2 separate regions of the Homo sapiens genome follow, and region 2 is linked to region 1. The links come from fine-mapping of genetic effects on gene expression. Tissue or cell type: whole blood. Region 1 holds a variant in brackets; the other region holds the start of a gene. All regions are shown on one strand. Distances are from middle to middle.

The links. PIP is the estimated chance that this variant, and not a neighbour inherited with it, causes the effect.
Region 2: it holds the start of FAM43A, and the variant in region 1 is fine-mapped to the expression of FAM43A in whole blood (TOPMed, PIP above 0.99).

Annotation. Positions count from the first base shown.
Region 1 is chr3:195,099,005-195,104,150 of GRCh38, forward strand. The region is part of intron 3 of XXYLT1 (xyloside xylosyltransferase 1); the gene reads right to left. It overlaps LOC124909476 (a long non-coding RNA gene), which reads right to left. Exons shown (of 2, transcript XR_007096226.1): 1 at 4,626-5,146; 2 at 3,848-4,510. Among named protein-coding and RNA genes, the nearest start is that of XXYLT1-AS1, 7.0 kb to the left of the region's middle. RefSeq lists an enhancer at 3,634-4,833. The variant T/C (reference allele first, on the strand shown) is at 2,365.
Region 2 is chr3:194,683,657-194,688,802 of GRCh38, forward strand. It overlaps FAM43A (family with sequence similarity 43 member A), which reads left to right and starts at 2,227. Exons shown (of 1, transcript NM_153690.5): 1 at 2,227-5,146. The coding sequence starts at 3,171. The coding sequence ends at 4,442. It overlaps LOC124909474, which reads right to left and starts at 3,253. Exons shown (of 3, transcript XM_047449428.1): 1 at 2,204-3,253; 2 at 1,682-1,762. The coding sequence starts at 2,597. RefSeq lists enhancers at 1,957-2,316, 3,068-3,573, 3,574-4,077 and silencers at 3,057-3,246, 4,077-4,376.

The DNA.
Region 1 (5,146 bases):
ACCATTCCACAATCACAATGTATTTACTTTCCAAAGCTGTGGATACCAAAGGAAAAACTGTGGTAGCAGAGTACGGTGTAATTAACGTGGAATGTACCAGGGGAACCGAGGACATGGCAGACAGACACCGCGTTCTCAAACAACCGCTTGCTGTTGAAGAGGGTCTATTTTCTCCTCTCCCTCTCCCTTCCCAAGAGATTAAAATAATAAACTCTAAGAAATAAATAAACGTGCTCAGCTTCACACATACGAGGTTGACCCTGGCGCAGGTGCGTGGACTCACGTGTGGGGTAGCAGCTGGACAGCCATGATCTGTGTCCATCACCACCCAGGCATCATGACCACAGAGAGACATATTTAGCACACACATTACAGTGCCTCCCAAACCAGCACCACCATCTGGGGCCTGTGCTGTCAGCCTGGACGCAGTCAAGTCAGCTGAAAGTAAAATCCATTCTCCATAATAAAGGTGTTCACAAGCCCCTTTCCCTGTGCAAGTTAGCAAAGACAGAACCATCTGACGAAGAATTAAATGCAGTAACTGGGCTGGGCGCGGTGGCTCATGCCTATAATTCCAGCACTTTGGGAGGCCGAGGCGGGTGGATTACGAGGTCAGAAGATCAAGACCATCCTGGTTAACACGTTGAAACCCCGTCTCTACTAAAAATACAAAAAAATTAGCCGGGCGTGGTGGTGGGCACCTGCAGTCCCAGCTACTGGGGAGGCTGAGGCTGCAGAATGGCGTGAACCTGGGAGGCGGAGCTTGCAGTGAGCTGAGATCGCGCCACTGCACTCCAGCCTGGGCGACACAGCGAGACTCTGTCTCAAAAAAAAAAAAAAAAAAAAATGCAGTAACTATATTTGAATCTTGTTCAGTGTAAAAGTTCTTAAGAAAAAGTTGTTTCTAAAGTGTAGCTTCAGTCAATAATTGGGATCTGTTTCTCACTGGGCACAAAATGGAGGGAGAAGAGAAAAATTCTCCCTGTCTTACTTAAAAAAGAAGACAGACTAAATAAAGTACAATAAATATCTATAGAATAAAGTAGTGGAAATTTGGAACTTCCAAATTTGCAAATCTGGAACTTCCAGTCCCTGCATAAAGCTGTCTGAGATCCTGCACCTGAAACCAATCTCCCCGCCACCACCGTTCCCCCTGCTTCATGCGACAGGCAAGGAGTGGCCCAGCCATGTCTGTCCCTCCTTTATTCATCCTCTGTGGATGTCTGACGGCCAGATGGACAGGGCTGGTTTCCTACTGGTCTCCGAATCTCCTGCCTCCACACCTAGCATGGGGTCCTATCTGGGAAAGTGTGGCCTATATGGCATGGAAGCCAGGTACAGCAGGAGTTTTACCCACCAGAGCACCGGACAGTGTGCTTTGGCCAGGACAAGGAGGGACACATTTAGCACACACATCACAGCGCCTCCCCCAGAAGGCAGGCATCTGCAGAGTCTTCTGCCCTGGCATCAGGCTAATGTCATGCTCCTCAGTGCCTATAGAATTAACGTCACCTTAGCCCAACACATAAGGCTCCCGGTGATGTGGCCTCTACCCCTGCCAGCCTCCTCCTCCTCTCTCCCTGGCACTCTCCCCGGCACTCTCCCCTGTACTCCACCCAGACCCAAGTTCCTGGGCCTACACACGCTACCCTCACTGAGGCTGTGGTGCCCTTCTCCCTCCTCGTCCACCAGAAAACTTCTTGTCACGAAAACCCAGCTCACAGGCCATGTCCTTTGTTCAGCTCCCTCCTCGCCCCCAAGCCTTGGACTATGTCTATGGTTGTGGGGTTTATACTGATCCTACATCCCTTTCTGTCCTATTAAACTGTGAGTTCTTTGGGGACAGAGACTGTGTCTTTTTATATCGGATATCCCTGCTGCCTAACCCTGTGCCTGGCACAAAGCAGGGACTCAGTCCAAATTTACTGAAGCGAACTAGTCTAGACAGGTATACTTTCACTGTCCAACTGCAAGGATATAACTAGCCTTTTCCAAGACAGCTATAGGTTCCACAGAGCGGCCCACAGCCAAGGCCTCTGCCAGTCTCTGTGAAGGGCTTCTGGCGCAATCCCAGCAGCTCCCCAGCCTCACTGCTGTAATCCACAAAGCACCTCCCAGCACGTGACAGTGAGGCTATGACAAGTACATAATATGTCACCTTCAGAGCCGCCAGGCCTCTTGCCAGTGCTATGCCGTCCTTACGGCGCTTGGGCAGGTACCCCCAGCTTGAATGTTCGACTTAATTGATTGGGAGCAATTAAGGAGAACATGTACTAGTTAATTAAACACTGTACCCCCACTGCCACCTTCATCAAAATCTCTTAAATCACATTAGGAAAAAACAGAATCTCTCTGGCTGGTTAG[T/C]ATCTTTACTCTCAGGGCATCATGATGATGAAATGGGTAAACACATCCTCTTTTGCAAAACCATTTCCTTCCCATTTATTACTTTTTCTAGAAATGCACACAACTGCTATCACTTTCATAAATATTTTAAAACATTAGTAAGTCCCAGGGACATTCCTTTTGTATACTACATATTTCAGTGAGATTTGGATAAAATATGGCAGTTATACATGTAGCTCTAATTAACATATTTCCTGAATGAAAATGATAACATCTGGCCCCTTTTAAAGATGAAATATATGAAATTGGGATATAGCAAAAAATACATCTGAGCCGGGTGCTGTGGTGTGTTCCTGTTATCCTAGCTACCTGGGAGGCTGAGGCAAAAGGACTGCTGGAGCCCAGGGCTTTATGTCCAGCCTGGGAAATGTAGCGAGACCCTATCTCTATTGAAAAAAAAAGGGGAGAGGGGAAGGGAGGGGAGGGGAGGAGAGGGGAGGGAAGAAAGAAAAAGAAAGTAAGGAAACAGAAAAAAAGGAAGAAACAAAGAGGAACGGAGGAAAGGAGGAAAGGAGAAATGTAAGGAGGAAGGGAAGGGAAAGGGAGGGGAGGGGAGGGGACGGGGGAGGGAGGGATGCGGGGAGGGAGGACAGAAAGAAAGTAAAGAAACAGAAAAAAAGGAAGAGAGAAAGAGGAAGGGAGGAGAGGAGGAATGGAAGGAGGAAGGGAAGGGAAAGGGAGGGGAGGGGAGGGGGAAAAAGAGAATTGTCTGGTATATCTGAGTCTATGTTTTCCAACAGAATAGAATGAATGTCTTCTGAATTCTATGTAAGATATACAACATGATATTTTGAAATACACAGGTAGTGAAATGGTTACAATAGTCAAGCAAATTAACATATCCATCAATTCACATTGTTACTCATCTTTGTGTGTGTGGCAAGAGCACCTAAAACAAACTCTTTTCGCAAAATTCATGAATACGATATTATGGATGATAGCCCTCATGTCACACATGAACCCTCTAGACCCGTTCATCCCACACGTCTGCTACGCTGTATCCCCTGACTGGTATCTCCCCATTTCCTCCCTCACCCTCGCCGTGGCCACGGTAACCATCATTTTCTTCTCTACCGCTGTGTATTCAGCTTTTCCTCTTTTTAAAAAGATTCTACATATAAGTGAGATCATGCGACATATTTTTTCTCTGTGTCTGGCTTATTTCACTTAGCAATAATGTCCTCCAAGTTTCATCCACGCTGTGGCAAATGGTATGACTCCTTCTTTTTAAAGGCCGAGTAATATTCCGTTTTGTGTGTGTGTGTGTGTGTCTTGTATGTTACAATTTCTTTCTCTATTCATCTATCAACAGACATTTAGGTTCTTTCCGTATCTTGGCTACTGTGAATAACGTTGCCGTGAGCACGGGAGAGCAGTTATCTTTACGAGGTAGTGATTTCATTTCCTTTGGGTCAATGCCCAGAAGAAGGACTGCTGAGTCATATAGTAGTTCTAGTTTTATTTCTTTAGGAATTTCCATATTGTTTTCCATCATGGCTGTACCAACCTACATTCCTACCAACGGTGCAGCGTGCTGGGGCTCCCTCTTCTCCACACCCTCGCCAACAGTGGCTATCTCTTGTGTTTTTGACAATGGCTATTCTATCAGGTGTGAAGTGAGAATGACTGTTTTCTGATTTTGCCAGATTTTTATATGTCTAAGGAATCAACCCCGTACTGCCAGCCTGCACTGAACGGGGAGAAGTGGCGGCTCACGCTAGTAACAGTCAGTGCTGTGGGGGGCAGATAAAAGGGAGCCTAGGAACGCTGGACGGAAATGCTGATTTGCTCCAGATAACAGACTGGAATTCCAGGCCATGAGGCTGGGCCTAGTTTAGTTAATGCTGGGCCACTGGTGGTTCTGTGACAGAAAAACAGGAGTGCAGGAATGCACCCCCACACCAGCGACCTGCGTCCATCACCCCACGCCAGCGACCTGCGTCCATCACCCCACGCCAGCGGCCTGCGTCCATCACCCCACGCCAGCGGCCTGCGTCCATCACCCCACGCCAGCGGCCTGCGTCCATCACCCCACACCAGCGGCCTGCGTCCATCTCTTCTGCATTTGTTAGAGGCTGCATGGGCCTAAATCACACACACTCAGAACCTAGAAAGAATCAGTGTAGGTAAAACAAGAGAGAAATTAATTTTAAATAGGAACATGTTCTTTGTCTTTTGAAGCCTTTTAAAGGCCCTTACATTCACTGTCGCTGTGCCTTTACCTAGACTCAGATAAATGACAGAAGAGGTGCTGTTCTGTGAGACCTTTAGAATCCATCAAGGGGAAGTCACTGGGCAAGAGGAATGAAATTCAGGCCCTGAGAAACTAGGGAAAAAAAAATTAGAGAAACAATGCAATCTTGTCAGGTGACCAATTCCAAGTGTGTCCTTTGACCTCATGGAATAAAAGACAGTCCCTGGCATAACTAGCTGAAAATACTAGCTGGGGTCATATGCTTCTGATTACTGAGAAAGGCCAGCACAGGCTGAGAGTCCCTATGCTCCTGCCTAACCCTGTGGCCTCTCCAACGAGGGGAGAAAGGTTTGACGCACTAGAAGTTCATCACTTTAAGTCTGTTGTTTGGAATTCTGAATACATTTTCCTATAACAACTATTTCCAACTGGTGTTTGGGCGCCTTTTTAGACATTACATACAGATGGACCCACAGTTTAGAATGGGAGCAATGGGGAAAGGAAAATGGGAGGTCGGGCCCATGAAATCTACTGATGAGTAGAAGCCCT
Region 2 (5,146 bases), 420 kb before region 1:
AAGGCATTATAGCTCTGGTTGAAGGACCCTGTGGGGCCAGTTAGCCATGAAGAGGCCATTCCTTCCCTTGGAGTGTAAGAGAGCCAAAAAACACAATCAGGAAGGTTTATTCTTTGATTGTTACAAGCTCCATCTTAATTACTACATGTGTATGCATTTTCTTTCTTTCTTTCTTTCTTTTTTTTTGAGACGGTCTCACTGTGTCATCCAGGCTGGAGTGCAGTGGCGCGATCTCGGCTTACTGCAACCTCCGCCTCCCGGGTTCAAGGGATTCTCCTGCCTCAACTTCCCAAGTAGCTGGAATTACAGGCGTGCACCACCATGCCCAGCTAATTTTTGTATTTTTAGTAGAGATAGAGTTTTGCCATGTTGGCCAGGCTGGTCTTGAACTCCTGACCTCAAGTGATCCACCCGCCTCAGCCTCCCAAAATGCTGGGATTACAGGCGTGAGCCACCGCGCCTGGCCTTATGCATGCATTTTCATGCTTCTGTAATTTTGCTACCCTCTATACCCATAAAGCCCTTCAGTCTTTTCCTATTTGGATAAATTCTGTTTATCTTTCAAAGGTCACCACCTCCATGAAGCCTTTTCTGATTTTCCTAGTCACAATGAATGCTTTCTTCCTCCAGCTTCTCATAGTGCTTTGAGTCTTTCTCATAGCATTTAGCCCACTCTGTCTTCTTGTCCACATGCATATCTTGCTCATTAATTCTAGTTACTGAGTGCCTATTTGTACCATATTGGGGATACAGGGTACTTGCAGAGAACCCACAGTCCAGTGGAAACCCAGAGTTGGGTAGAGTTTACAACCTTCATTGGACTAGGAGGCAGGAATCCCGTCTGCTCCTAGCTCAGGGCCGGGCACCAAAAGGTAGTCAGAAAAGTAACTTAAATGGAAACTCAGCAAAGTAACTTAAATGGAAACTCAGCATCAACGACTCTGAGAAAATTGAGTTAGATTTCAAAGGAAGGTTAAAAGTTGGCAAAGGTAGAGGGTGGGCAGGGGTCAGTTTTATTTTGTTGGAATATCCCAAGGGAATTTCCAGGTATGGTTGCAGTGACTCTGGCATGAAGACCTGGCGTGGAAGCCAGAGACATCAAAGATCCCCAGGGGACTGGGATGGTGGGAAGGGATCACTGTCCTCCTCCAGGACCAGGCTGGGAGTTTGATGCAGGATCATTCGGACATTGATCCCACTCCAGCCATACGTCTTTTTGCTTTGACTGACCATACCATAGAGGCAAGCAGGCTGTTTCAAGGGCCCAGAAATGAGTTACTGGCTAAGGGTCAAGCCGGTCAGAAGACAACTACACTGTCCAGTTGGCACATGATAAAAGCAATACTGATGCAATTATCACTCCCATTGGAGGGTGGCCTGGCATTATTTGTCACTTAAATAAAAAACGTCATTTGAATTTTTACTAGGAATTCTCATCCAAAATATGTCAATGATAGAATGAAACCGCATGACCGGCTTGCCAAAGTAAACTAAGTCCTAACGACACACGAGCATTAGAAATTGTGTGTATCTCAGAAAACTGCTCTACCCTGAGGCCTGACAGCAGGAGGGGGTCTTGCCGGGGTTCGGACGGGGAAAAGCCTTATTCATTGACGGTATTCTACAGTAGTCACCCCAATCATGTTACCACTCACCTCACTTTACACTGTCTGCTGCTTACCTGTGAATACGAGCTCAAGATAGTGAGAGATAAGCCTTGGTGTTTTCTGTGCCTCTCTCTTTTCTTTAATGGAATACAATTCTGAAAATAATATTAAACAGCACCCAGTCATTCTCAGAAAGCCGTCACACAAGGAAGAAACCACTATTTTCCCAAACTTTTTGTACAGGAAATTATAATCTGTAATCTCATCTTCTGCCACCTCCCTCAGAAGTTTCGATCTAGACATACATGTATTCAGTGAGTGGCAATTCAGCCTGGGGGGTGGAGTGTCAGGATTCAAATCTTTTTGCTGCGGGGTAACCCCAGGTCCCAGTGATTTCCATAGACAAAAGAGATGCTGGTAAATTTGGGATGTAATTGGAGGATTGGACCGGTCTCCCCGCTCCCTCGACCAATGGCTGTCACGCGGTCCCTTTAAGAAACCAGGAATCCGCCCGGAGTCGGAGCCCAAAACAGATCCTCTTCTCTGCTCCTCCCCTGTCCCCGCGCGGCGAATGGTTCGCGCCGGCCTATATTTACCCGAGATCTTCCTCCCGGACGGCAAGGATGTGAGGCAGGCGAGCCGGACGCCGCTCGCAGCACCGGAGAGGGCGCACTGCAAAGGCGGGCAGCAGACCGTGGAGAGCCCGGGAGCGGAGCTGGACACCGCCTCGGAGGGAAGAAATGAGGTAGCGGCGGTTCCCGGACCCGGCCATGCCCGTCCCCTGTTCTCGGAGCCCAGCGCCGTCTCGGCCAGGCCAGCCCGGACACTGAGCGGGCCGAGCGCGAGTCCCCGGCGTCCGGCGGAGCGAAGATGCAGTGAGTCCCCGCGGGACTGCTGCGCGGGGCCCGCCGCGGCCAGCCGGACCCAGCATCCGACCGCACTTTGGGCGAGCTGCTGACTTGAGACCAGCCCAAACGGGGGGCTTTCCATCTCCAGCACCCCTCGGAGGTGGGGAGCACCGGCCCCTAGGCACACTCGCTGTAGAGTTTCCGCGGGTTTTGGCCCCAGTCCTGAGGGTTGTGTGTGTTAGGGGACCCACCTCACGTTCGCCGAGGAGTTCCTGCATATTCTTGCACCATCCCGGGTGCTGTTGCTGGGGCTCTCTTTATTTGCACGCGCGCTTCTAGCTTTTTTCCTGACATTTTCCACTCTACGCTCGTTCTTTCTCCCTTGCATTTTGTTGCTTGCCTGAGACTCTTTGCTCTCGCCCTTGCCCAGGCTGGGGTAATTCTGTGTGCGCGCGTGTCTCCCCCGCACCAACCTTTTTTGCACACTCGAAGCTGAATATTTTCTTTTTTAGAGAATTTACCCGCACCTCCTGCGGGGTTCCTAAGCACTCTCTCTGCTCCCCTCCCCCCAACTCCCTACCACAGGGCCGCTCCCAGTAGTTTTATTCTTCGATCTTGCCCGGGCCGAGCCTGGCAGGGGCCGGTGGCTCAGCGGGCCTCGCACCCGGCGCTCCGCCGCCGCCGCCGCCCAGCTGCGCCGGGGCGCCCTCCGGAGATGCTGCCGTGGAAGAAGCACAAGTTCGAGCTGCTGGCCGAGGCGCCGCCGCGGCAGGCGTCCAAGCCCAAGGGCTACGCTGTGAGCCTGCACTACTCGGCGCTCAGCTCGCTGGCGCGGGCGTGCCCCGAAGGCGCGCTTAGCCGGGTGGGCAGCATGTTCCGCTCCAAGCGCAAGAAGCTGCACATCACTAGCGAGGACCCAACTTACACCGTGCTCTACCTGGGCAATGCCACCACCATCCAGGCGCGCGGCGACGGCTGCACCGACCTTGCTGTGGGCAAGATCTGGAGCAAGAGCGAGGCGGGCCGTCAGGGCACCAAGATGAAGCTGACGGTGAGTGCGCAGGGTATCCGCATGGTGCACGCCGAGGAGCGCGCGCTGCGCCGCCCGGGCCACCTCTACCTGCTGCACCGCGTCACCTACTGCGTGGCCGACGCGCGGCTGCCCAAGGTCTTCGCCTGGGTGTACCGGCACGAGCTGAAGCACAAGGCCGTGATGCTGCGCTGCCACGCCGTGCTGGTGTCCAAGCCCGAAAAGGCGCAGGCCATGGCCCTGCTGCTCTACCAGACGTCGGCCAACGCGCTGGCGGAATTTAAACGCCTCAAGCGGCGGGACGACGCGCGTCACCAGCAGCAGGAGCTGGTGGGCGCACACACCATCCCGCTAGTGCCGCTGCGCAAGCTGCTCCTACACGGACCCTGCTGCTATAAACCGCCGGTGGAGCGCAGCCGCAGCGCGCCCAAGCTTGGCTCCATCACCGAGGACCTGCTCGGCGAACAGCTGGAGCAGGAGCTGCAGGAGGAAGAGGAAGAGGAGCAACCCGAGGGCTGCCCGGAGGAGGAGGAGAACCGTGCGGCAGAGGGAGATCCAGCAGAGGAGGAGGCCGAGGCGCAGCGTGCGCTAGTGGTCGCCATGCACTTTGAGTGCGGGGACTTGTTGGATACTCTGGAGAATGGCCGTGGGGAGGCGCTAGGAGGCGGCGGGGGCTCCCTGGGCCCGGGGGCCGGGCCGCCGCCTCTGCTGCTGGGCAGCGCCTCCGACATGAAGGCTGAGCTGTCGCAACTTATTAGCGACCTGGGCGAGCTCAGCTTCGGCAACGACGTGCGCACCCTGCAGGCCGACTTGCGGGTGACGCGCCTGCTGTCAGGCGACAGCACGGGCAGCGAGAGCTCCATCGAGGGCGGGGGCCCTGACGCCACCTCCGCCACCGCCGGGGACTCGTCCCGCCAGGCCGACGGCGCCAGTGCAGACGAGCCCCACTCGGGCTGAGCTCCTCCGCGCGTCGCCGGCGCTCCACCGTGGCTACCCATCCGTGGTCCCGACAACCTCCCTGTCCCTTGCCCGCCCCCAGGAAGGGGGAAATGGGGCATTTGGGGCCCAGACCTACACTTGGAGCCCAGGTCCAGCGTTCCCCCGACCGCTTTCCCCTACCTCCCGGCCCCCGCTCCCGCCCCAGCACTTTTGGCTCTGTTGCGCGTGGGGATGCGGGGAGATTTGAGAGGGGAAAACCCCGCCAGGAGGGAGAGAGAGGCACCCCTCTGGGATGCGGGTGAGGGAAGGTTGGCTGAAGTTCCTAGTCTCAGGCCGTAGGTGCCTGGCCAGTTTCCTGTTTGTGGGGCAGCTGGGGCCTGAGGAGGAGGGGTTCACTTCCTCCTCCCACCCCCTGGGAGCGGCCCTGCGCTGTCACTGACATCTCATTAAAAAAAAAAAAAAATTTGCTCTCAAGGTGTTTGAGGCTTTAATGCAACCCTTTAGCCCTTGGTTCTTTTTGGTGCAAGAATTCTGGCTGTTTACCTCAGACTCAGACCCCTGAAATGTTGCCAAATTCTTCAAATAACTGTTTGGGGGGTGGGGGGAGATGAAAGAGAGTCGCGTTTTGTTTACAGTTAAAGACATCCAATATCTTAAAAAGGAGTTTTCCTTTAGAAACACACACACCCTTCCTCTTGCTCAAAAGATCTCACTCCATGATA